Homo sapiens: one gene and its partners. The protein of the gene in region 3 purifies or fractionates together with the protein of the main gene of each other region. This does not show direct contact. Each region holds a gene or a part of one and is shown on either strand. Other genes may lie near its edges. The genes, in order: ZNF703, ZNF609 and SBSPON.

Region 1 (10,417 bases), about 35 Mb from region 3:
ATCTGATGGAGAAGACCAGCCCTCTGGAAAATGATCAATTTGTCTTCAGTTTCTCCTCCTGCTCTCTCTGACTTTAAGCCTCCCTCTCCTTCAGTCCCGCACTCTGTAGAGTGGAGTGGCTCAGGAACCAACTATCTGGACTTGAATCCTGGATCTACCACTTTCTAGCAGTGTAACTCAGGCAAGTTGCTTAACCTCTCTGGGCCTCACCTACAAAACAGTACCTTACCTATAAAACAGGCATAATAATAGTGCTCACCATGGTTTGCTGTGAGAAGTAAATGAGTTATTACAGGCAAGGTGCTCAATACAGTGTCTAGCAGGATAAGTGTTCAATAGATGTTATTATTATCCTGGGAGGAACACTCACTCTGCTAACCACAATTGGCTGATAAAAAGGGTTTGACGCCTCCCAGCAACATTAGCGACTTAAAAGAGGAATCTCTAAGAAACTTGAAGGTCCAAAGGAACAAAGCAGTCAGGGGTGAATGCCCAGGGCTAGCGTTGATGTATCAGGGCAGGTCAGGCTAAGGAAGGAGAACTTCAAAATCACACCTACTCCATCTCCCCGGCCTAGCTCCCCAGGAGCTGATAGGAGATAAACCAAACCACCCTCTTCAAAGCAGCTGCTCAAGGACCGGGATCAAACGCACAGGCTTGGAGACAAGCTTTGGTCCGCACTTCCTTTTGTCCCTTCCTCCCCACCACATCTCTAGAGGAAATTCTTAGGTGAGGAAAAGGAGTTCATTCTTCCTTCTTTTATCAAAAGGAGTTAGCTCTCTGTCCACACAACAACAGTGGCAGAAGGCAATAGACCAAGAACCAGGGAAGGGACCGAGAAGGACTCATTCTGTGCCCATTCTGCCAGCCTTTTGCTGTGTGTGACTTTGGACGCTCCCTTAAGCTCTCCGAGCCCATTTCCTCATCTGTCAAACAAGGATAATAACACCTGCCCAAAGGAAAGAAAATTGCTGTGAGATGCTGGACCCAAAGATGCATTTGGGGCCAGGCGCAGTGGCTCACGCCTGTAATCCCAGCACTTTGGAAGGCTGAGGCAGGAGGATCACCTGAGGTCAAGAGTTCAAGACCAGCCTGGCCAACGTGGTGAAACCCTGTCTCTACTAAAAATACAAAAATTAGCTGGGCATGATGGTGGGCGCCTGTAATCCCAGCTACTTGGGAGGCTGAGACTGGAGGAGAATCGCTTGCACCCAGGAGGCGGAGGTTGCAGTGAGCCAAGATCACGTCACTGCACTCCAGCCTGGGCAACAGAGCAAGACTCTGTCTCAAAAAAACAATGCATTTGGGAAAAGGTACTTTAACATGTTTATACAATCAACATTTTGAAAAATACAATCATCCGTGTTAAACCTTTTGGGAATACAGTGAGGTGTGATATAAATAAATAGCCCTATTTTTGTAAAATTCTTCGTTCATCAGAAACATTCACTGGGTACTAACTGCACTGAGACTGCCTGGACCTGGATTTGACACTCCAGGCTCACCTCCTACCAGCTTGGGCCTTGGGCAAGTTACTTAACCTTTCTGTGCCTGTGAAATGGAAGTAACCATAGGACCCATCTCCTAAGGTTTCTGCAAGGATTAAATGAGAGAATGCACGCAAAGTGCTTAGAACAGCGTTTGGCACTCAACGTTGGCTACTGTGGTGATGGTGAACCGCTCTGTTAGGCAATAAGTACACAAAGAGGATGAGGAAAACAAGAAGCATTCACAGTCCAGTGGGAGATCAGACAAGGAAGCAAATAGTGGCAGATGCCATGTGATAGGTGTAATAATAGAACATAATACCAACTGTGAGAATGTAGAAGAGGGAGCCTCTTGAGTCATCGGTGGGGCGGGCTTCCTGCAGGGCTGGCTGTCCTGGTCTTAGCCTGCTTGCTCCCACTGTTCCCTGGTGCCCCTCTCGTGCCCCAGGCTGTGTCTGAAGCCGGGGGATGGGGCAGACAGAGGAAGCGCCTTCAAGTGCCCTGAGTGCAGTGTGCTAAATCAGGGCTCCCGGCCAAAGCAGTAATTGCCAGCCGCTGAAAGATATTAAGCGCCAGGGAGGAAAACCAAGTTCTCTATGAGGCAGACTTTTCAGAGTTCTTACAGCTTGTAAAAAAAAAAAAAATGTAAATAGTTACCCAGTGAGATATTATTTCATGTTGTTGCCATTAGGGTTTGAGTGTTATGCAGAGAGAGGAGAGAGAGGCGATCATTCAGGCAATTCTGCCTCGGCAAGGACTGAAAACTACACATTAACCCCACACAACAAATCTACCCCCTCTAGGTCTTAACCTGACTCGAGCATTTTTTCCTGGGTGGTGAATTTTATGTAAATTGAAGTAGTGAAAAAATAATCTATACATATTCACAGTTTCTTAAAGGATTTTCTTGATGGCTTCTAGGGAGGGATGGGCTATTTTTTTTTTTTTTTAAGACACATTGCGGGCTGGGCACGGTGGCTCATGCCTGTAATTCCAGCACTTTCGGAGGCTGAGGCCGGCAGATCACTTGAGGTCAGGAGTTCAAGACCAGCCTGGCCAACATGGAGAAACCCCATCTCTACTAAAAATACAAAAATTAGCTAGGCATCATAGCACACGCCTGTAATCCCAGCTACTCGGGAGGCTGAGGCAGGAGAATCGCTTGAACCCGAGAGGCAGAGGTTGCAGTGAGCCGAGATCATGCCACTGCACTCCAGCCTGGGCAAGACAGCAAGACTCCGTCTCAAAAAAAAAAAAAGACACATTGAACTGGAGGCTGGGGAAGGGTTACTTTCATTTCTGTAGAATTCAGAGACAACCTGGGCTCTTCTGCTTGGGTTCCCAGGGCTAAATCTGGTGCTGATGTGGCTGCTCCCCTGAGCAATTGCTCCTCAGACACAAATGATGCAATCGGTTACAGCCATCATTTACCTTCAACTTTCTTTGTGCCAAGCATGAAACAGGTGACATGCATTGTCTGCTTCTGGTCTCCCAACTCTGAAGTGGCCACGCTTCCATTTTACCCTGGAGGAAACCAAAGCTTAGGGAGGTTCACTTGCCCGGGGTCCCCACAGCAGCCTGGTTCTGGGCCTGACTCTCTTCAGCTTGAACTGAGAATGATAGCAACACCTGATGTTTATTAAGCGCCTGACATACCGAACTGTCATTCTTCACCACAGTGTCATGGGGGCACTCTCAGGCAGCCCTCTCCCCTGTCCCATTTTAATGGTGGCCGCTCATTCCCAGGGCCATCTGAGGAGGACCTGGACAGTGGAAGGCCCCTGAGCCACGCATCTGCCACTTTTTTGCAGAGGGAGAACCTGTGTCATATGTCCTGAACAGGGATGTCTTACTCGGGCCTTCCAACCACATCGCCCTCCATAAACACAGCCCATCTGAATACAGAGCCACATTCCCTCCCAGGTGACAAGCCATTCCTCTGAAAACTACACTTGCCTTCAGGCCCCGAGGGCCCCATTTAGTGCTCTGTATAGGTTAGCATTTTAGCTAAGTGAATGGTGAATCCCAATTGTAATAATCATCTAGCAGTGTTTTAATTAGGCCTCTGGCCTGGCTATGCATGGTTTTTCATTTTCCCTCCTAAGACGTTTGGATGGATCCAGCCAAAGAAACCCTGCTGCCCTGACCAGCAGCTCAAAGTGTGTCCCTCCCGCCTTGCATGCTTTCAGAGGTGTGTCCTACCACTTCCCAGGAGGTGGGAGCAGGCCAATCTGTGTGCCCGTCAGTAATTACCACTGGGAGCTCAGGGAGTGAGGTGTTTTTAACAGGACAGTATAGTATTACCTAGGCAAATCCCCCATCACATCCTGCCAGTCTGTCCTTACCTCCTCTTCTCTCCCTTCCTTTCCTTCATTCACTACCTTTTTCCTTCTCTTTTCCTCTCCAAACAGAGAGTGAATATTCTATTGTCCTCTCTCTTCTCCCCTCTCTCCTTTCAGCTGCCTCCTGCTCTGTTTTCCAAATTCCTAAATACCTCTTCCCTCTCCCCTCCCCTTTTCCTCCTGACTTATTTCCCATTAATCATTTCTAACACACATCTGCTCAGGCCCTAGAAGGATCCCTTGGCTCCCTCTCACAGCTGGGCTGGTTACAATAATCAGGGAGACTTTCATCTTTCATAGCCTCCTAGGTCTCCCCTCTGCCCAGCTCCTCCTCCTCTGCGTTCCTGCAAAGGCCAGCCTCTCTGCACCCTGGCTTCCTTCTGCCCTTCCCGCTCTACACAGCAGTCTCCCGAAGGCAAAATGGCTTGTGGGTGGACACAGCCCTGCAGTGGACTTTTACAGGTGGTGTTTGCAGTGATGGCAATGGCTGCCCGCACAGAAGTCGGCATGAGAAGCCTGCCACGATGAAATAAATGAGATCACTCCCTCCCTTTTCATTCCCGCACCCCTCTTGCTGCAATGTGGGATCCATCTCACAGTCAGGGTACCCCTTTCCATTCGGCGTAACATGATTTTACCAAGATTAAAATTGGGGAACATGTAATTACAGCTTGTGTAATTTCTAAGCATTCTATAAGTGCTGCCCAAAATACAGTATGGATCCAGGGAGTGCACTTAGTTTTGGGTATGACTGATACTGCCTGGAAGTGGGGTCTGCTGTCTTCTACTACTGGGCAAGATACAGATTCGTGATAGCTATTTCTTTCTGTTTGAAGAGCTCCTTTGAAATCACCTCTCCCCATCTTGGGTTCTCAGGTCATCTCAAGGCGTCGGTCAGCGCGGCAGAGTCGGGAACCTGCCATCCTAGAGCAATACGCCCCGAGTGACAGCCCTGACAACCGGAGTGATGGATCGGGACTGGAAAAGTGGTGCTGGGAGCCAGGCAGTGACACCAGCGCGCCTCCACTGGCCGCCGAGCGCACGGAGAAGTGGGCTCCCCAGAGTTCGGCACCCAAAGGACCAACTTCGCCTCCGGAAAAGCGGCGGATCCGGAACTTGGATGTCAGGACTATGACTACGTAAAATCTCTGCCCAGGGCGAAGCTAGCAATGCACACTGTATCAGAAAGGCGCAGGGAGTCGGGAAGGGTATTGTTATTTTTAATTAAAAGTTTTTATCCCGAAATTTGCCTGGGGAAAGCAAGTGCTTTTTCCCCCGGAGTGAGAAGGATGGGGGGGCGGAGGGGTTGTGTTGCCGAGCAGCGCTTAGAGAGAGATCCCCCTCCAGGGACACCCGCCTCGCCCGTGATCTCGGTCTCTCCTCGTAGCAGCTGGGCGCGGTACAGTGAGGAACTTCACGCCCCTCAGCAGGACACGGTAAGAAGCCTGTAACACACCAGACACCGAGCCTCTAACGCAGGGCGCAGGCACAGCGCGCACAGCCTGGGGTCCCGCGCTTGGTCGCCGACCATGTCACTCCAGAAGGGAGACAAACTTGCAGGCTTCAGACAAGACGGGCTCAAAGTAGTTGGAGCTGCCTACGCCGCGTCCCGAGAACAGTGGGTGCCTCCGAGGCTCGGGCGCTTCCAAGTGAACACACCAAGGGGAGGCCAAGTAGGGGAAGGAGAGCGGGGCCGAGGAGAGCCGGAGCAGCTCTGGAGAAGGACCCGGGCTCCCGAGGCGAGGCCTGCCCCCAGGCGGCCTCTGGGAGAGGCTTGAACTCCAGCGTCCCAGAGCCCGCGCCGTGCGATCCCTCCCACCCCACCCCACCCCACCCCACCCCACCTCGGACACACACGGCGGGCGGGGTTACAGCCCCCGCCAGCATCACCCCCCACCCACCCAGTGGTGAGAAGGGAGAGAGGAGAGAGAGCGGCCGGAAAGGAGGACGGGGCGCAGAGCTCAGGGTCCCGGAGAAGTCCCGTCCCAGGCGGGGGACCCCAGGGCGAGGAAGGCCCAGTCGGGGGGAGGGGAGGAATCCCGGGAGCGGCCGAGACCGAGGCAGCGGCGGCGCGCGGCGCGGCCCCTTTAAGGCTCTCCCCGCCCACCGATGGAGCCGGCCTCAGCCCGCCGCTCTCCCCGCCCCGGGGTCCCGGCGAGAGCTGCGATTGGGCGGGCGCGGCGATCCCTTTGAAGTGTGGCTGCCGATCGCGGCTATTTGACGTGCGGCTCGAGGAAGGCGAAGGTTTTTGTGTTGCTAGCCGGGGCCAGCGGCGGTGGCGGCGGCGGCGGAGGCGTCGGTGGAGGAGGGGAGGCGGCGAGGAGGCGCAGCTCCCGCTGCACCGCGATCGACGCTGCGGAGCGAGCCCACCCGCCCCGGGAGCTCGCCTCCCCGGTGCTCCCCCGCCCTCCCCGCCCCCCCAGCGGCGCTGCCTCCTCCAAATGAGCGATTCGCCCGCTGGATCTAACCCAAGGACACCCGAAAGCAGCGGCAGCGGCAGCGGCGGCGGCGGGAAGAGGCCGGCGGTGCCGGCAGCGGTGTCCCTCTTGCCACCGGCGGACCCCCTGCGCCAGGCGAACCGGCTCCCGATCAGGGTCCTGAAGATGCTGAGCGCTCACACCGGTCACCTCCTGCACCCGGAGTACCTGCAGCCGCTGTCCTCCACTCCCGTCAGCCCCATTGAGGTCAGTCCCCGGCCGCTGCCCCCGGGCGCCGGCCCCATTCCTCCCACCGCGACCGGGACCCTGACCCAGCTCCCAGCGCCCCGGGGCTCGGTGCGACACCCAAGTCTGGTCACGCTGGCGGGCTGAGTGAGGAGGGGAAGAAAACCGAGGGATCAGAGCCCACCAGGGCTTCCCCAGGCTTCCCCGTGGAAGGGTCTCCTTCCACGCTCGCCCTTCGGAGCTCCGTGTTTTCTCTCGGATTGGATTTGCTCCTGGAGTCCCCTCTGGGTCCTTTACTTTTCCTCTGATCCCCAGTTTCCAGCCAGGAGTTGGTCTCTGCTGGGTCTTCCCCGCCCCCCACGCCGGGCTGTTTTCTTTGAAGCCCTGGCTGCCCGGGTCCCACTTCGCCTCTGTCCCATCCGGTGAGGGCGCACGGCGCCCTGGCGCTCCCGATCCCGGATCTTTCTTCCTGCCTCTTCCCTGGGTGCCCTCCCCGGGAGGGAGGGGCTACGGAGAGAGCGCCAACTGCAGCCCCTCCTTTAGAATCCGCGCTCCCCTCTCCTACCCCGCGGCGCCATCGCCAGAAACCCGTCCCAAGCGAAGTTCCCCCAAACTAAAGGAATAAGTTTTTTCCTGGGCCTGGAGGAGGGGGACATTAGAGGGAAGTGGCGAGTCACAGCCCCGACTCCAGAGACGTCACCTTCTCCCGCAGGGGTCCTGGGTGAACTCCTTCCGCAGGGCCTGCGGCGCACCCCGGGACCCAGCGGCAGTGTGGGCGCAGTTCCGCCAGCTGCCGCGCCCGGCCCGGCCCTCGCTCGCAGACCCTCTCCCCAGGCCCGCCCCGCCCCGTGGCGCCGCCGCCCAGCTCCCCGGGCGCCCCCGCTCGCCCCGCAGGCCTCTGAGTCTCACTCCTTCTCCCTCCCCCTGCTTCTGTCTCCCACAGCTGGACGCCAAGAAGAGCCCCTTGGCGCTGCTGGCTCAGACCTGCTCGCAGATCGGCAAGCCGGACCCGCCGCCCTCCTCCAAACTCAACTCGGTGGCGGCGGCGGCCAACGGGCTGGGAGCGGAGAAGGACCCCGGCCGCTCAGCCCCGGGCGCCGCCTCCGCAGCCGCGGCCCTGAAGCAGCTGGGGGACTCACCGGCCGAGGACAAGTCCAGCTTCAAGCCCTACTCCAAGGGCTCCGGCGGCGGCGACTCCCGCAAAGACAGCGGCTCCTCCTCGGTGTCTTCCACCTCCTCCTCGTCCTCCTCGTCCCCGGGAGACAAGGCGGGCTTCAGGGTCCCCAGCGCCGCCTGCCCGCCCTTTCCCCCGCATGGAGCGCCGGTCTCCGCATCCTCGTCCTCGTCGTCGCCCGGCGGCTCCCGCGGCGGCTCCCCGCACCACTCTGACTGCAAGAACGGCGGCGGGGTTGGCGGCGGGGAGCTGGACAAGAAAGACCAGGAGCCCAAGCCCAGCCCGGAGCCGGCAGCCGTGAGCCGCGGCGGCGGTGGGGAGCCCGGGGCGCACGGTGGCGCCGAGTCCGGGGCCTCCGGGCGCAAGTCCGAGCCGCCCTCGGCGCTGGTGGGGGCCGGCCACGTGGCGCCGGTGTCTCCCTACAAGCCGGGCCACTCGGTGTTCCCGCTGCCGCCCTCCAGCATTGGCTACCACGGCTCCATCGTGGGCGCCTACGCCGGCTACCCGTCTCAGTTCGTGCCTGGCCTGGATCCTAGCAAGTCCGGCCTCGTGGGAGGCCAGCTGTCTGGGGGCCTGGGCCTGCCGCCGGGCAAGCCCCCCAGCTCCAGCCCGCTCACCGGGGCCTCCCCGCCCTCCTTCCTGCAGGGATTATGCCGCGACCCCTATTGCTTGGGAGGTTACCACGGCGCCTCGCACCTCGGCGGCTCCAGCTGCTCCACCTGCAGCGCGCACGACCCTGCCGGGCCCAGCCTGAAGGCGGGGGGCTACCCGCTGGTGTACCCCGGGCACCCGCTGCAGCCCGCCGCGCTCTCGTCCAGCGCCGCCCAGGCCGCGCTCCCCGGCCACCCGCTCTACACCTACGGCTTCATGCTGCAGAACGAACCGCTGCCGCACAGCTGCAACTGGGTGGCAGCCAGTGGGCCGTGCGACAAGCGCTTCGCCACCTCGGAGGAGCTGCTCAGCCACCTACGGACCCACACGGCCCTGCCGGGAGCCGAGAAACTTCTGGCCGCCTACCCCGGGGCCTCGGGCCTGGGCAGCGCCGCCGCCGCCGCCGCCGCCGCCGCCTCCTGCCATCTGCACCTCCCCCCGCCCGCCGCCCCCGGCAGCCCCGGGTCGCTGTCCTTGCGGAATCCACACACTTTGGGCCTAAGCCGGTACCACCCCTATGGCAAGAGCCACTTATCCACAGCGGGGGGCCTGGCCGTGCCGTCCCTCCCCACAGCCGGACCCTACTATTCGCCATACGCGCTGTATGGACAGAGACTAGCTTCAGCCTCGGCGCTGGGATACCAGTAACTACAGCTCTTCCTCCACCCCAGCCCCCTCACCCTCCTCCCTCTCCCTCCTCCTCCCTCCCCACCTGCCGTCGCCGCTGCAACCTCCACTACTGCTTGACCCTGCCGGGATTCCCCACCCAGCCCTTCCCCACCGGACTGTGTATTTATTTACTATAATGTTAGCTTACAAGCTGGGAATATAAGTGCATTAACGGCCCACATGAGTCAATGGTATGCAAAAAGTCTGTGTTCTCCCAAATAATAATATTAATCCCACAAATAACGACATGATCCCCGCCCCTGTTCCTTTCTGTTATTTTTTCTTAGATATAAGTTTTACATTTTTTATTCCTTTTCCTCTTTTTTTGGTTTTGATTGGTTTGGTTTGAGGGAGAGTTGGGGTCTTTGGGTTCTTCTAGACGTTTTGTTTTCCCTTCCTGGGGAGTTTCTTGCATGAGTCTTAACTTAAAACTACGTTTCCGCCTTCTCTTTTTCCCTCTTCCCCCTTCATTCCCTCTTGTTTCCTTCCATTTGCGGTTCTGTTTTTGTTTTTTGTTTTGTTTTGTTTTGTTTTTTCCTTTGTTGTACAAGTAACAGAGAGGAGGTTTTTTTTGTAACTCATTTTGGGGGTGGAGGGGGCCACCTGGGTGGCAGGGGCCCTGGAGCTCTATTGACCTGGTACACTGCTCCGGGACTCCTCCCCCGCCACCCTCCGCGCATAGGGTCCTTGGTCTGGACCCTGCCCCCCAAAAGTAGGGCCTTGCTCCTCTACCTTGCTCTGAGCACGGAGAGCCCTGACCCCACCAGTAGGCTCGCCCCCAGAAGGGCCCAAGTGGCCGTCTACCGTCACCTTCCAGACTCCCGCCCCTAACACCCAGTGGCTACAGTGCGCCTGTCGGGGCACCTGGAGCGCTCACCTGGTTGAATTCAAAGTCCCAGAAGGCCCCGCTGGCGTGAAGCCGGCCCCTTACATTTTGCGAAGTGCATTATAGTCCTTGTTTTTCTCTCCCTCGTGGGGGCAACGACCCCTCCCCTGGCAGTAGGGGTGGGGTAGGTGACTCTCGCTAGATCCCTCCAAAGCAGACCGGTGGCGATGTCAGCGGATGTCACGAGCTCGTTAGCTGCGTTCGGGGAAGGTTGGGGCGTCAGGGAGCTCTCGGATCACAGCAGCCCCCGCCCTCTCCTAGGCCTGGCCCGGCAGAGCCCCCAGAGTGGACCCCCCAGCGACTGGGGTCTTCTCCCCACTCCTCCCTCCTTCTGGTCTGATGCGGCAGCGCGGGGGCTGCGGGGCCTGTTTGGGACGAACAGAGCTCTCCCTTGGTAAGACTTATTTTGTTAATAAATGGAATACTTGGCTATATTCACACCGTGGTGTTTTTCTCTCTTGCCTCGCCCACCCTCTTCCAGACACCTAAGCAGATGCCCTTCTTTTATTCTTGTTTAAAATGCCTTATGGTTTCCTTCTGTGATT
Region 2 (7,000 bases), on a different chromosome or scaffold from region 3:
CGCACTCCAGCCTGGGCAACAGAGCGACTTCATCTCAAAAAGAAAAAAAAAACTGCTTGAAAGCAAATACTTCCTAACATTACTCTCAATCTGAAAGTTCCTGAAACACTTACCAACCAGCTTTTCATTTCTCGTCTCTTTTAGGAGGGTATTTCAGAGATACCCCCTTGTTCGTCATACTTCGGCAAATGTCATCAACGTGCATTTTCAGCATTAAAAATAACGTAATTGGCTGGGTGCAGTGGCTCAAACCTGTAATCCCACCACTTTGGGAGGCTGAAGCAGGAGGATGGCTTGAGCCTAGGAGCTCAAGACTAGCCTGAGCAACATGGCAAACCATCATCTCTACAAAAAAAATTACAAAAATTAACCAAGCATGGTGGCACACTTTTGTAGTCCCAGCTACTTGGAAGGCTGAGGTGAACCCACTAGGTCAAGGCTGGGTAAGACCCTGTCAAAAATAAATAAATAACAACATAATTTTATTTTCCGAACAAAACACTGTGGGCAACTCAACTTGTACTCAGTCCCAAGAAGTTAATTCAAAGTGGAATTTCTACTGACTAGTCAAAAGTGGAAAAATATCCAACTAACCTCCATAATCAGTCCAATTTAGCTCCCAGATTTCAGATATAATAGATTATTAGATCCTTGACTGAATTTACAAAGTTACTTCTTATTGATAGATGGCAAATCCTTCCAGGTACAACTTCCTTCTCACAAGCTAAGGTTCCTTTTCTGCAGCTTTCTCAACTCCTGACCTCAAGCTGATCCACCCGCCTCGGCCTCCCAAAGTGCTAGGATTACAGGCGTGAGCCACCAAGCCAGGCCAGCCTTTTTTGCAGCTTTCTGATTTCCACTCCTATGTTTTAAGCACACTAGAAAAAGATATATGCGGCAAGTTGGTGAGCCTGCAGAATGAGGCTACAAAACCCTCCAAAAAAAGATGGCCTAATAAAAGTACAGCCTTCCAAACAAATCAAAGAGTATGAGAGTCAAGCCCCAGGGAACTGAAATTGCACTCATTAGCCCTTCTGAATACCGGCTATATTTTTGACCAGCAATAAAAAAAAAAAAGATGCTCACTTATGTTAAATATTTTTGTCCTGTTCTTCCACCATAATCTTTTTTTTTTTTTTTTTTTTTTTTTGGAAATAGGGTCTTGCTCTGTGCGAGTGAAGGCTGAATTGCAGTGGTGAGATCACAGCTCACTGCAGCCTCGACCTCCTGGGCTCAAGCGATCCTCCCATCTCTGCTTCCTGAAGAGCTGGGACCACAGTGCACACCACCTGGCTAATTATTTACGTATTTATTGAAATGGAATTTATCTCTTGTTGCCCAGGCTGGAGTGCAATGGCTTGATCTCGGCTCACTGCAACTTCTACCTCCCAAGTTTAAGCGATTCTCCTGCCTCAGCCTCCCAAGTAGCTGGGATTACAGGCATGTGCCACCACACACGGCTAATTTTGTACTTTTAGTAGAGACAAGGTTTCACCATGTTGGCCAGGCTGAATTGTGTTGTTTTTTTTTTTTTTTTTTTTAAGATATGAGGCCTCTCTGTTGCCCAGGCTGGTCTCCAACTCCTGGGCTCAAGTGATCCTCCTGCCTCAGCCTCCCAAAGTGCTAGGACTACAAGTGTCAACCTGACTCTCAATCTTGGTATCATGATATTCTACAGCTAAATGGAACCGCAGTGATCATCCTGTCTAATGTGTTCATTTCACAGATGAGGCACATGAAAACAGGGGCATGACTTGCACAAGGACAAACAGCTAATTAGAGGCACAGTAATGATCAGAATCTGGGTTTTATGACTCTCAATTCTATGATTTTTTCCCCTCTATTCTTTGAAAAGCTATACTAGCCAGGCATTGTGGCTCATGTCTGTAGTCCCAGCACTTTGGGAAACCATGGAAGGAGGACTGCTTGAGTCCAGGAATTTGAGACCAGCCTGGGCAACCAGACTGGAGTGCAGTGGCACACAACATAGTGAGACTCCATCTCTACAAAAACAATTTAAAAATTGGGCTGGTCACAGTGGCTCATGCCTATAATCCCAGCACTTTGGGAGGCCAAGGTGGGAGGATGGCTTGAGCCCAGGAGTTCAAGACAAGCCTGGGCAATGCAGCGAAACAAAAAAAAACACACAAAAAAATTAGCCAGGTGTGGTGGCATTGAGGCTGGAATGAGCTGTGATTGCACCATTGCACTCCAGCCTAGGCAACAGAGTGAGACCCTGTCTTAAGGAAGGAGAAGCAGAAGGAGGAGGAGAGAGGAGAAAATGAAGGAAGGAAGGAAGGAAAAGAAAAGAAAAGAAAGGAAAGGAAAGGAAAGGAGGAAGGAAGGAAGGAAAGAGAGGAAGGAGAGGAAGGGGAGGGAGGGAGGAAAAAAAAATTAGCTGGGTGTGGTGGCGCCTGCCTGTACTTCCAACTGCTTGGGAGGCTGAGGTAGGAGAATTGCTTGAGCTCAGGAGGTTGAGCCTGCAGTGAGCTGTGATCGTGATTGTGTCACTATGCTCCAGCCTGGTGACAGAGCAAGGCCCTGCCTCAAAAAAGAAAAAAAAAAAAAGCATACTAGTAAAGAAAACATAACACTCTTAGACAATATCTTAACTGTAACAAAGACACAGAAAAATAAAATTTCATCCACATAAAGAGAAGTGTTAGAACAGAAGAAGCAACATTTGTTCATATAGTACAGGGGTTACTTAAGGCACATATTTTCTTTTTTCTTTTTGACAGAGCCTTGCTCTGTTGCCAGACTGGAATGCAGTGGCACGATCTCCACTCACTGCAACCTCCATCTCTCAGATTCAAGCAATCATCCTTCCTCAGCCTCCCGAGTAGCTGGGACTACAGACGTGCGCCACCATGCCCAGCTAATTTTTGTATTTTTAGTAGAGACAGGATTTCACCATGTTGGCCAGGATGGTCTCGATCTCTTGACCTCATGATCCGCCCGTCTCGGCCTCCCAAAGTGCTTAGATTAGAGGCGTAAGCCACCGCACCGGGCTAAGGCACATGTTTTCTAAAGTATTTTATTAATTACCACCTGCTAGAATTTATGTCCTGTGTTTTCATCAAATGTACCTCCTTAAAAGCAGGCCACAGTGACACTTGTGGCAAAGGTCAGAAAAGTGATACTTCTGGCATAGATAACTGATGGTACAAAAGGAATCCACAAAGGTGATGCCCACAATCAAGAAGAAAGGACTGAAGAAGGGGTAGAGATATTGCTGGGAGGAAGTATTCCTGAAAAATGGAATTAAAAAAGAAAAAAACCCCAAAGAAGTTGGCCAGACACTAATGACCAGAGAACACAATAAAAAGAAGGCAGTTTCAGAGCTTGTCTGGCATCAGACAGCTCTCACCTGCAAAAGAAAGAAGGAAAAATTTCTCACAGAGACAAGAGAAAAATCCTAGGTTTGCCCCTGAGTGATGGACTAGATATGACCTGACAGGTATTTGCCATCTCTTATTTCTGGGACTCTGATCCAAGAACAAACAGCAAGAGAACCATGAAAAATTAGCCCTGTTGGATCTGGAGTTCTGCCTTGACAAGATATAAAGCTCATTCATAGATCTGACTGTGCTCATGAGACTGCAGTTCAACTCCTGCTGCTAGAGCAAGGGGAGGGGGGAAGAAAGAAAGGGGTGAGAGAGAAGGAGGTGGAGGATCTGGGTTGTGACTATAATAGCTACAGTAATTAGAGTGTTTCCAAGCTGCTAGAGAAGTCTTCAGGGTAGGGAAGTGGGATAAGAGATGGGGGTGGGGGAAAGGTAAAAGGAAGCAAACTACTGAGAGTGCTAGGAAAGCATAAGTGGTTTGTGAACAGTTTTAATAAAACAAACATAAAAAACTGCCATAGCTTCGTATGAGGAAATCAAGAACTTGACATTCTTTCCTAGAAGTGAATACTAAACAATTAACTGCTGTCGCTAGACTTCCACTTAAAGCTAGCTTAGCTTTAGGTAGATCACTGCAAATGTCCCCATCTATGCAGTGCTCCATAGGCCCTGACCTGAGTCATAGTCTGGCCTCACTTTCCCTCAAAGAGCCTTCACTCCACTTGGGCTGTGGGAAAGAGATTTCTGAACTTTAAAACAGTTCATATGGCTCATTTCTCTTCAATCATCCGTTAATTAGTACCCTGTGAATTCCATTAGGTCGTGTGTGTATGTGTTTCAAGAGAAGGGGCACACAACCTGTTGGCCTAATATAGAAAATGAATGGAAGGCACTAAAAAGGTCAGAAAATAAACACAAAGTTACTTGCTTACAAGTTTTAGGCTCTATGGCATTCCTATTATAGTGGCACAAACATATGAAAGAGAAAATCATATTAACAGAAGATGATAATCTATTAAAAAATCTGAATTTTCAGAAAACCTCAAATAGTCTTTTCCCAAGTTATAGGAAATGCTATACCCCCCGCTAACTTTTTTTTTTTTTTTTTTTTTTTGAGACAGGGTTTCATTCTTGTTGACCAGGCTGGAGTGCGATGGCGCAATCTCAGCTCACTGCAACCTCCACCTCCCGGGTTCAAGCGATTCTCCTGCCTCAGCCTCCCGAGTAGCTGGAATTACAGGAGTGCACCACCAAGCCTGGCTAATTTTTGTATTATTAGTAGAGATGGAGTTTCACCATGTCAGCCAGGCTGGTCTCAAACTCCTGACCTCAGGTGATCTGCCCGCCTCAGCCTCCCAAAGTGCTGGGATTACAGGCATGAGCCACTGCGCCCGGCCTATATCCGTTTTTAAGATAAATATTTAGTGGTGATGTTCCTTAACATCATTTCTTCTGGTGATGACTTGGTTCTAACAAGTGATGTTAATGTCAATGTCAGGGAAAAGAGTTACAAAGGTGCTGGGAGAAACTAAAAATTGAAAAAAACAACTGGCAGGGCATGATGGCTCACACCTGTAATCCCAGCACTTTGGGAGGCCGAGGTGGGTGGATCACCTGAGGTCAGGAGCTCTACAGCAGCCTGGCCAACATAATGAAACCCCATCTCTACTAAAAATACTAAAATTAGCTGGGCATGGTGGTGGGCGCCTGTAGACCCAGCCATTCAGGAGGCTGACGCAAGCAATTGCTTGAACCTGGGAGGCAGAGGTTGCAGTGAGCCGAGATCGCACCATTACACTCCAGCCTGGGCCACAGGAGCGAAACTCCGTCTCAAAAAAGAAAAACAAACAAACAAACAAATAAACAACCGAAGAGATGCAAACTTCATGTGGGGAAATATATTCATAATATAAAAACATAATATAAAAACACATGCAAAATCACTTGAGTAAGGCATGTCAGGTAGACTTCCACAAAAAGTCAATTACATCATTTGCATAAAACCTATTAGGTATCCACCCAGTAGGCTAAATCTTTTTCACCATACTGAAAGCAAGAAATTTTCTCCTTCCCATTTCCCTTTAATAAACAAGTACTAGAAACACTGAATTACCACTATTTCCCTCCCATGCACAAAGCATAAAGCCAGAACTCCCATAAATACAATAGAGCCGTGTAGGGCCATGTCTAGGGCATGCTACTGAGTGATCTAAAAAACCACAGTTACAGAAGAATCTCTTTCTCTATTCTATTACCATCTTACTAACAAATCAACAAGCATTAAGAAATGTGAAACAAAGTGCAATTTCACACATACAAACTGAATCTAACCCACGGAAGACCAAGTATTTTCTTGTCACTGTGGCATGTGATTCTTCAACCACCTGCTCAGTAATCCCTCTTCAGCTACACAGCTGCTGCCAATTCCACATGCCCAGCTAGGCAGGTGCTTTGGTGAATTACCTGTTCCCTAGCGAAAAGAGTCCTTCACTGACACTTAGTGGACCCAGAACCTGCCAATCAACATCACCTATCTTCATTTTGTCTGTCACAGACAACTTTTATAACAGAGGTATCATGAAGGCATATTTAATACATTACGATATTTTGCATTTTGTGGGGTTTTTGTTTGTTTTCTTTAAAGGAAACTGATTTTGAAAAATCAAGTAGAAGAGAGAATTAAGAGACTGAAAAGAAAACTTCCCACACAATATAAGGCTGCCTCATCTCAGGCTAATCCCATCTGCCTGGCAGTATTCCCATCCATGACCAGTTTTCCATGAGGGAAATAACAATTGCTTAGCTACCTTCAGAGTAGGAGAAAAGGGCAGTACAAGTACTAAGGTACCTGGAAAAGAAGTAACTACAAAGAGGAAGCAGAGTGGGAACTTCTGGAGAACACATATCATTGCTATACTTAGCCTCCATGGCTAAGCTCAGGCAATAGTGTTCTGAGTCAAATAAATAAAATAAATAAGGAGTGGCACTTCCACTTGACAGAGCAATCAGTAAACCCCTCAACAAATTATCGTGTTCCAGTCATTTAGTTGCTATATGCTAATTGCAACATAATTGCTACCAGGAGCCAAAATTATGCCTCCATATCCTCACAAAATAAGCACTAATCTGTCCAACTTTCTAGACTTCTATCACAAGGAAATTTTTTTCTACCAAGAAGCTGGGACGGGTAGTTGGGGGGGAATCCAAAGCACTCTTTGAATGATGGTCACAATCAGAAGACTCACATGAGATTCCTTGTGGCAAGGGCCCAACTCTGAAGCCACTAAATCTAATCAGGACAAATTTAATCTGAGGCTTCTGCCTTCACTGTCACCTGACAGCATTCAGAAATAAATGCCAAGAGCCCAAGAGCAAAAAGCTTTGGACTCAGTTTAGCTGAGGCTTCACTCAAATATTCCTAGGACACAGAGTTGGAAATAGTCTAAAGACAGACAACACCTCCAGTAAGGCCTGAAGACAGTTCTGTTATCAAAAAATATATAAAGGTCAGAACAACCTGTTCCCTCCTATCAAAGGCCCAACACCTCAGTGGCAGGCCATCATTTAAAGAAACTCACTGAAATAAAAGGATAAGGGAGGCACCATAGACAGACTAATTGCCTCAGAAAGACCTTTACCAAAACCAAAGGCTA
Region 3 (10,200 bases):
TCTAGCAAGGCTTCCAGGGGCTTCGGATGCTCACTGGAGTTTGAGAGCCACTGCTGTAGCCCAAGCGTGACAGAGGCCCCTCTGTCATAGCTGGGTCACCTAATCAGCACTTTCCTGAAGGCAGAAGTTCCCAGAGTATCCTCTTTTATTAGAATAGTTGTGCAAGAAAAGGGATTAGTAGGAAAATATGGGGTAAATCAGACAGTTTTCTCTACCAAAGAACTTTTCAGAGCCTTTATTATGTGGATCTGCATTTTCATTCCATAAGAGAGAGAGAGGATTTGCAGTGTCTTCCCACTTAATTTGATCATATGATCCCCTTTTCTATGGAGCGTCCCACTAAAATCATTCATGTGCTGTGGAATGATCTTTGAAAAATGATGGCTTACTAGAGGAAAACAAGAGGGACATGAGAGGCAATCACGTAAACATCCAATTTCGTGGATTCTCCATGGGCCCCAGGCCCTGTTTGGCTCCACGCACTAAGCATTCACTTATGTGTTTCATTAACTTAACACTCACTGAGCACCTCCTGTGTGTGCCAGCACTGTGCTAGGTTTTAGAGATCCAAACTTGATTAACAAACATATCACAGCTAAATAGAACTCACGGTGGTGAGCTCTGGGATAGAAGGAAACATAGGTTGGCGTGGGAGCATGGAGAAGAAGCCCACACTCAACCTGGAGGCTCTCATCCTGCTTCATGGTCACCTGTGTCCCTGTTACTGCCTTCCACCCCCACTAGACTTCCTGTTCGCAGATCAGGCGCCTTTGAGGCGCGGCACACGAATCCCTCATGTTTGCATAGCAGAGAGATCTTACAGGCATCATTGGTTCAGCCTTCATAGCAACCCCGTGAAGGAGTGTATTCATTTTCTACGGCTGCTGCTACAGATTACCCCAAATTTAGTGGCTTAAAACAACACAGATTAGGCCGGGTGTGCTGGCTCATGCCTGTAATCCCAGCACTTTGGGAGGTCGAGGTGAGTGGATCACCTGAGGTCAGGAGTTCGAGACCAGACTGACCAACATGGTGAAACCCCATCTCTACTAAAAATAAAATATTAGCTGGGTGTGGTGGCATATACCTGTAATCTTACCTACTTGGGAGGCTGAGGCAGGAGAATTGCTTGAACCTGGGAGGTGGAGGTTGCAGTGAGCCAAGATTGTGCCATTGCACTCCAGTCTGGGCAACAAGAGCGAAACTCTGTCTCAAAAAAACAAAACAAAAAACCCCACAGATTTATGATCTTACATTTCTGAAGATCAGAATCTGACATGGGTTTCCCCAGGCAAAAATGAAGGTGTCAGCTGGGCTACAGGCCTTTCTGGAGGCTCTAGGGGAGACTCTTCTTCCTTGCCTTTTCCACCTTCCAGAGGCTGCCCACATCCTTTCCTCACTGCCGCCGTCCTCCATCCTCATAGCTAGCAACAATGCATTTCTCGGTGCCTTTCTTCCGTTGCCACATCTTTTTTTTTTTCTTTTCATATAAGATGGAGTCTTGCCCTGTTGCCCAGGCTGGAGTGCAGTGGTGTGATCATGGCTCACTGCAACCTCTGCCTCCCAGGTTCAAGCGATTCTCCTGCCACAGCCTCCCGAGTAGCTGGGATTACAGGCGCGCACCAACACACCCGGCTAATTTTTGTATTTTTAGTAGAGATGGGGTTTCGCCCTGCTGGCCAAGTTCTGACCAGCTCTTTCTTAGGATCCTGTGATTACATTGGGTCCACCTGGAAAACCCAGGCTATGCTTCCTATTTTAAGGTCAGCTGAGCAGCAACCTTAATTCCACCTGTAACCTTAATTCTTTGTTCCCATGTAATATAACATATTCACAGATTCTGGGGATCAGGACATGGACATTCTTTGGGGGCCACAATTCTGCCTCCACAGAGAGGTAGGACAGAGTCATTATCCTTGGTTTACACCTGAGGACACTGGAGTTCTGAGAGGTGACAGCACGTGTGAAGGACTACTGGAACTAAAACCTGGATCTCCCGGCTCTAAGTCTTATGGGATTTTCCCACCTCAATAGTGTTTTGCTATTAACTGTCATCATTACAGCTAAAATTGTAATTACAGATTCTTGTAACTAAGTAGAAATATAAATGCCCGTGAAGCTAGTGAAGGAAACATGATCCCTGAAGCTCTCTTATTAATGACTGAGTAGCTATTTCCTTTTTCCTGTTTCATTTAATGCATACCATAATTATATTTTTATTATAAAAACAAATTTAAAAAGCCACATTACTGAATGTGTTGCACATCATTGACAATTGTTTATATATATGTGTTTTCCTCCTAAAAGGAGATCAATGTGCATTATTATAAACCATATGCCTCTAGGTAGATATTATTTGTCAATTTTTCATTTTACTCTCTTCTGTACTATAGACCAGTGATCCCAGGCCTGCTTTTGTGACACCCCATTGTGTCAGAGGGCGTTATGAAATTCTCAAAGCAAATTTAATTTACTTTCATGTTCAAAGTAAGTATATGCAATGCCCTGCTTTTAGAAGTGGAAGTTGTTGTAAAACCAAACAATGGGAGGCTGATAGAACGCCAGAAACATTGGCAAATCGCCTGTGAACAAAGAATATATTGCACTTGAATACTGTTGCCAGGAAGGGGAACTTAGATTTATTGGGGGCCTTTGTCCCAGGGATGCTGGGTTACGTGCTTCCGCACATTAGCAGAAGTGTGGCGGGAGGCAAAAATAATTTCTAAGTTATTTCATTACTTAAGTAATGAAAAGTGAATTTGGGGGGGGTGTATTAAAAAGTGATGCTGGTTCTGGGACCTCCAGGCAGTCTGGCTCATGTGAGAGGGACCTTGGCAATAGAATGTGCCACCACCAAGCCCAAGGCCTGGGGACAGCCCTGGGTACCTGGCTTGCTCTTAGGATGCACCCTAATCCCAAGAGCATGAAACTGAGCTTGATAGAAAGTCCTGAAAAACAGATGGGCCAAGCTTGGTGGCAGATGCCTGTAATCCTAGCACTTTGGGAAGCCAAGGCAGAAGGATTGCTTGGGCCCCAGAAGACCAGCCTGGAAAACAGAGTGAGACCCCATCTCTACCACAAACAGAAAATGGAAAACAAAAATGCAAACCCCCAAGCCCTCAGAAGATAGCTTCTGTGCTGGGTCCTTGCTTAGTCACTTACTACTTATTTTCCCTTCATTTAACCTCGGTGAGCCTCAGTTTTCTGATGAATGAAATTGGTATAACACCCTTTTACAAAGTTTTTGTTGAAGGTAACACATGATGTGAAATTACTTTGTAAATGAGCAGGCTATACACATACCAGGGGCCATGGTACCCAGAGGGTGACCCTGCACCCACTGTGTGCCCTCCCTGGCCTCCTTACCTCTCTCATGGACTGAGGTGACTCCAGATACAAGGGGCTAAAAGTTTCTCTTTTCCTTTCTTAAATCTGACTTCACATAGAGCATAATGATTCGTGACAGAAAGGGAAAATAAAGCCAAATTTAAATAATTCATGGGAAAGATGCTGCAAACAGTACTGGAACTTTGTCATCTATATTATTACAGAGGCAGTGGAGTGCCGCCCTGAGGAGTTTGATTTCGGAGACGTTGCCTGGCTGTGCTATATTTAGATGTGAGCCTTAAACACATTTCTTAACCTCTCTGTGCCATAATTTTCTTGTCTGTGAAATGGGGAAATAATAGGATCTATCTCAAGAGGCTTGTGAGAATTAAATAAATTAATACCTGAAAAGTGACTTAGAGTTGTCCCTGGAAACTTAGAAGTGCGTATTTTTATTATTATAGAACCTTTTCCAAGAATTTTGTATCAGAAACTAGAATCATATATTTATGTTTTCCTTCCACTTCATAGCCTCTTTTTCTGAGCTATACATTAAGTACCTTGCCTTTGAACTTTTGTAATGATATATGCAGTACAAATTTGATTACATAAATATCTGAGCTAAAGAATCCCCAAAAAATTACAGGTGGACTTGTGTAATGCTGCATGGATTTAGCAGTAAATTGATTCTTCACTTAGTGAAGAAACACATATGTGTGTCTGAAGAACAGAAATGAAAATGTATGGGAGAATTAAATCCTTTAGATGTTTGTGTTTCTGATAATTAGGTCTCAGAGAAACAGAGAGGGATCCTGATATACATGCACTCTCTTGTTCTTTCTAATTCTGTCTGTAGATCTTAGAAATGCAAACGCTACAGTCACATTTAGAAAACAATTAAACATGTCAGTGCAGCAAAAAAGAGCCACACAGGAACAAGTGGCTACCCGGTATTAGGCAGCTGCTCTTGTCTGTTTTTTTTTGTTTTTGTTTTTGTTTTTTTTTTTTGAGATGGTCTTACTCTGTTGCCCAGGCTGCAGTGCAGTGGTGTGATCTCGGCTCACTGCAGCCCCCACCTCCTGGGTTCAAGTGATTTTCCCAGCCTCCCGAACAGATGGGTCTATGGCCGAATGCCACAAAATCTGGCTCATTTTTGTAAAATTTTTAGTAGAGACAGGGTTTCACCATGTTGGCCAGGCTGGTCTTGATCTCCTGGCCTCAAGTGAGCTGCCTGCCTTGGGCTTCCAAAGTGCTGGGATTACAGGCATGAGCCACTGTGCCTGGCCTTTTGTCTTAAATTCCCTAGTAATACAAAAATAACTCCTCATTAAGAAAAGCTCAAAAAGAGTTAAGGTTTGTCATCTTGGGATAGTAAAGAGACAGGTAAAATCAACATGTAGGCTTCAAGCATCTATTTTGCAACCAGTATCCTCACATTGTTGAGTTCATGTTGATGATGACTTTGGCGTCTCATAAGTTGATATCAGCTTGTATCTACCCTTCCTGGAATCGCGCAGTTTCTGAAACAGAGGTAGAGGACTGCTGAGCCATCTTGGCTGCAAGGCTCAGTATAGGAACGGAAGACTGCAGGGAAGTAGGGCCTGTGTGTCTTGGCTGCAAGCCCATGACCTCATTCATTCACTCACTGGCCCATTTATTCCTTGCACAAATATTTATTGAGTGTGTAAATGTGTGAAGCTATAGTGATGGACAAGGCAAAACCCTGCCTTCCTCAAGATGACAACAGAGTCAGTCCAGGAGACTGACACCTATAGGTGTTATTATAGCAACAAATGCCTCCCTAGACTTAGTGATGAGGTAGAGAGGAGACACACAAACACAATAGAATTAAAGTGAGCAGAGACAGGAGGAAGGATTCTTGGTGCCATTTTTTTTTCTCTGACCCAGAGCATCAGAGTTGGGGGAGGGTTGTGGGGAGGAAGAGGGAAAAGAAGGGGACCACTGAAGACTTTCTTTCCCTGAGCTGGTGTGGGGACAATGCTGTGCAGGCTGGCACTGGGCAGCCACATTGATACTATGTGGTGGGCAGAGCTTCCATGAACTTTTCCTGCTGTGGTTACCTGAGGCTTGGGGAAGACTCACCTTCTTTCCTCCTCTGCTTCTTCTGCCTTTTTCTTTTTGAGACGGAGTTTCACTCTTTTGCTCAGGCTGGAGTGCAGGGGCGCGATGTCGGCTCACTGAAACCTCCGCCTCCCGGGTTCAAGTGATTCTCCTGCCTCAGCCTCCTGAGTAGCTGGGATTACAGGCACTTGCCACCACGCCCGGCTAATTTTTGTATTTTTAGTAGAGACAGGGTTTTGCCATGTTGGCCAGGCTGATTTTGAACTCCTGACCTCAGATGATCCACCCACCATGGCCTCCCACACTGCTGGGATTACAGGCATGAGCCAACACGCCAGCTGCTTTTTTCCTTTCTCATTTTTTTCTCTGTTTGTCTGTTTTCTCTCCTTCCATCCGCTTTTACTCTCTTTTGTCTTCTCTCTATCCTTCTTTGTTTCCTTTCTATTCTTTTATTATCTTATTTCTCCCTTTCTTTCTCTATTTCTCTTCCTTTCATTTTTGAAACCTCCTCTTCTCTTCATGCTCTCTATTATCTCACTTTTTCCCTTGTTCCCCTTCTGACCCCCATCTTCCTTTCCTTCTGGTTTTTCCTCCTGGCCCCTCTCCTTCCTCTCACACAGTTTTATTACTGCAGACAAATGTGCTTGTCAAAGGCCTGCAGGCCCCCTCCCTACCGATCTGTGTGCACACACATCTTTATTGAATTTGTAACTTGGCCTCATTTCACACCTTGATGGTGTGCCGTAGCCCTGTGAGTTTAGGAATGGAGACCCTTAGACAGGTACAAAACCAAAATTGGGAAACGATGGTCTGAGTACTTTGGCTCCCTGAATTCAACAGAAATCTCCCTTTTCCAGTTCCTGCCTTTATAACTACCTCTGCATTCAACAAGGAGAGAACACGACAAGCTACGTCTCCACACTGGTCTACACACACAGAGGATGCTGGGTAATTTCGTGTTTTTTTTTTTTTTTAATCATGTTTTTCAATTGTATAGTCAAGTCAATGCAAGAGGGTCAACTTGGTTTATGTTTTCTTCTTCTTTCTACTTGCTCTTTGACTTTGGCTAAAATATGGACTCTTCATCAGAGTTGGGAAAATACTTGTCCCCTCCTGGTTTTTGTGGAGCTATAAAGATATATCTACCTCTTAGGTCCAATCTTCAACAAGAAACAAACTATATACAAATGAGATTATTTTGTGAGCTTATTTTATCAATCATACTAAGGATGCTTCTCTTACAGTCTTTATGGGACGTTAGACTTCAGCACCACCTCTGTTTGGTGAATTTGAAAGTGACACACACTTCAACTCAGAGGTTTCTTATGGAAACCTATTGGTACAGGCTGGAAGTCACCTTCACGCTCAGCTGAAATCCATTCTTCTGCTGTCAGATAAGGGATACCAGACAGCTGCACGCTCAGGTCCCCACACTGCCCTCACTAGCATAAGACCTTGAACAACTTGTTCCACCTCAGTTTTTTCTTCCTAAAAAATGAGACTGTTAATAACCTACCACATGAGGTTGGTATGAGCATTTAATGAGAAAATAACATTGAAGAGATGCCTGAGGCTGGGCCTGGTTGCTCATACCTGTAACCTCAGTGCCTTGGGAGGCTGGAGCAGGAGGATTGCTTGAGCCCAGGGGTTTGAGACCAGCCAGGGCAACATAGTGAGAACCCCATCTCTATGAAAAATAAATACTTTTTTAAAAAGAGCTGTCTGGGCTTAGCTCTCTGAAATTGATTGAAGCCACATTGTAGGATTTCTTACCTCAATAACTAAAGATACTTGTTACCTTTAGTTACTAATTAGCTGTACCTATCATTCTTAAAGATCTTTAAAGCAGATTCTCCAAACACTTCCCATTTATAACATATTGCAACTCATAATTGTATGGGTAAGAAATTAGCCCATGGAACTGAAAATGCCACAAGTTTCTGTTACAATACTCGGAGATTTTACTATGTCTTGTTTCCCTGAAGAATTGGAAAACTGCACTGAAGTACAAATTTCTAAAATATTCCTCATGTCTGGATGTTCCCCTGGGCTTTCAGTGTCCAGTCACATATAATGTTAGAGTTTTCCGCAGCTCAGTTTAAGGTGACACTAACTTCTGTCAGAAAAGTGTGTCTCAGCCTCCCACTTCTGCTTTCACCTGCGATGCCCAATGTAACTGTGATAATTGACTTCAAGTCAAAACTCATCATCATTACTCCAGACCATACAAGTGAGGTGGGTGGAGAGGGTGGGGAAGATCCCGGGTACTTTCGTGGAGCAGAACAGCAGAGGTGCTGACCTAGGTGTTAAGGGCTAGCCCTCCTGGGCTCACATTTTTAGGGTTCTCAGGCTCAAGCAAGTGCTTGTTCAATTTATAGAATTCCTTTAGATCAGCAAAATTATCAAGGACTGGGTTTCTACAAAAACCTGGACTTCTGTGCACAATTTAGTGATCTGATTAGACAGGATACAGGATATCCAAACTTCTGCACATTTATATTGCCCAGAGAGCTCAATGATGGACTGAAAAAGGGCACAAAGGTTCTTTGTGATTATCAGTAATATTTCACCATGCTTCAGGGAATGAGAAACCTTAAAGGTGATTGACACGTAACTTGTGAAGATGTACTCACTACCTGCTCCAGTCGGCCAAATGCCCTTGGAGGTGACAGGCTTTCTAAGACTTTCTACAGCTTTAGGCCACTGCTCATTACAGCAAGTGTCATTGTTACTTCTTTTGCTGTAGATACTGTATGGAGTTTAAGACAGAGTCCTTGACTCCTCACTGTGCTCTGGAAAACTGGCCCTTGACTAGATGGATGCAGTATCTCCGAGAGGGATACACGGTGTGTGTGGATTGTCAGCCTCCAGCTATGAACTCTGTGAGCCTTCGTTGTTCTGGAGATGGCCTGGACTCCGATGGGTAAGAATGGAAATTAACTGAAGTACTTTTCTTGTCACTCATTCTGAGAAATCTGTCCTCTCCATGTCCAGACAGCTGACCAGTATGTAACATATCAAGGGATGACTGGGAAGTCAAAACAGTAGGTGAGGAGGACCATCCTCTGGCACTGCCTGGGGCCAGGGCTCCAGTTCCCACTATGGAACCCACAGGCCCTATACACCAGCAGTTAATATGGGTCCATTTGGACATTGGGGGCTGGGAGTGGTGGCTCATGCCTGTAATCCCAGCACTTTGGGAGGCCGAGGTGGGTAGACTGCTTGAGCTCAGGAGTTGGGACCAGCCTGGACAACATGGTAAAACCCCATGTCTACAAAAAATAAAAAATTAGCCTGGCATGGTGGCGCATGCCTGTAGTCTCAGCTACTGGGGAGGATCACTTGAGTCCAGGAGGCGGAGGTTGCAGTGATCCAAGATTGCACCACTGCACTCTGGCATGGGTGATAGAGCCAGACTCTGTCTCCAGAAGAAAAAAAAAAAGGATATTGGAGTTTAGATCACATTCCCAAATGATCACCAAAAACCTGATCACTCCAAAGTGGTGTTCTGAAGATCACTAGAATCAGAATCTCGTGAGATGGAGATGTAAAATGTGCAGATTCCTGAACCTCATTTCCGACTAACTGAATCACTCTTTGGAGGTGGATTTTTAAAAATGTCTTAGGTCAGGATCCAGAAAACCTTTTCTGTAAAGGGCCAGAGAGTAGATATTTTTGACTTTGCAGGCTGTGTGGTCTCTGTGACAACCCCTCAACTCTGACTTTGTAGCAGGAAAACAGTCACAGACACTATGCAAACCTTGGATTTGTTCTAACAAAACTTTATTTATGGACCCTAAAATTTGAATTTCGTATAATTTTCATGTGTCACAAAATATCATTATTGTTTTGATTTTAACACTTTAAAACATAAAAATTATTCTTAACTCACAGTCCAGACACAAAGAAGGGGTAGGCCGGCTTTGGCCTCTACGGGGTCCTAGTTTGGGGACCCCTGCCCAGGTAATTCATACCCACGATGAAGTTTCAGAACTGTTGCTCAATGGGGCTTCTTCATAAAACCCTGACTGAGACAGTGGTGGGGTCACCTCTGCGGTATAATAATCTTATATAAATCTGTAGATTTCTCTGAAATAATTGACTCCAAAAACATTTTACAGTCATGCACCTGTATCCCAGTTCTGCACTTATTTAGTGTTTAAATTTGATAACACTATACAAAACTAAAAGAAGAGTCAACTTCGTGCTGGGCAACTATTGGGCAAAGACTAATTTAGGTCACACATAGATTATGGTTTTCAGTATGTCAGGTGTAACTGGTAGAAATACAGATTAAAAGGTAAAATATGGGCCTTTCCAGTCAATTATTATTCCTGTAGAATGTTTTCATATTTAATAACTAGAATTTATGTTTATTAGTCACTAGTGCCTCATGGCCTCCATTGAGCACACCATAAGAACAATAAAGTGGGTAAGGAATTTATATCAAATAGAAAATATTTACATAATATTTTTCTGAATACCTCATCCATGTTTTGGTTTTAAATGAATTTATAATTTAATTTGTACCCATATAGTATTTAAACCCTGGCTGAGGTAGCAGTGACTTTAAAAATAATAATTTTAATAATCTGGCTTTGTTCTTTTCAGCTCTCTCATTGTTTTTTCATTATGAAATCAGAGTTGGAAAGCAGTAAAAGAGATCATTTAGTTCAGACCTCCCAGTTTAAATACACATAGAACAGTCAGCCATTTTCCTTTATGCAGCACTTGTGCTCAGATAGAACGGGAAAAGCAAATACAGTAACCCCAAGTTACTCTGTCAACATG

What was found.
Region 1: the proteins of SBSPON (region 3) and ZNF703 purify together in Homo sapiens (affinity purification with mass spectrometry; 2 studies listed by BioGRID and IntAct, with this or other methods). This does not show direct contact.
Region 2: the proteins of SBSPON (region 3) and ZNF609 purify together in Homo sapiens (affinity purification with mass spectrometry; 2 studies listed by BioGRID and IntAct, with this or other methods). This does not show direct contact.

Annotation. Positions count from the first base shown.
Region 1 is NC_000008.11:37,689,710-37,700,126, forward strand, and holds ZNF703 (zinc finger protein 703), read left to right. Parts: upstream 1-6,072; 5' UTR 6,073-6,270; coding exon 6,271-6,513; intron 6,514-7,435; coding exon 7,436-8,965; 3' UTR 8,966-10,310; downstream 10,311-10,417. UniProt on the Homo sapiens protein: Transcriptional corepressor which does not bind directly to DNA and may regulate transcription through recruitment of histone deacetylases to gene promoters. Regulates cell adhesion, migration and proliferation.
Region 2 is NC_000015.10:64,463,578-64,470,577, reverse strand, and holds part of ZNF609 (zinc finger protein 609), read right to left. Parts: intron 1-7,000. UniProt on the Homo sapiens protein: Transcription factor, which activates RAG1, and possibly RAG2, transcription. Through the regulation of RAG1/2 expression, may regulate thymocyte maturation.
Region 3 is NC_000008.11:73,067,937-73,078,136, reverse strand, and holds part of SBSPON (somatomedin-B and thrombospondin type-1 domain-containing protein precursor), read left to right. Parts: intron 1-2,393; coding exon of another isoform or gene 2,394-2,487; intron 2,488-3,551; coding exon of another isoform or gene 3,552-3,616; exon of another isoform or gene 3,617-3,618; intron 3,619-6,266; coding exon 6,267-6,357; intron 6,358-8,155; coding exon 8,156-8,332; intron 8,333-10,200.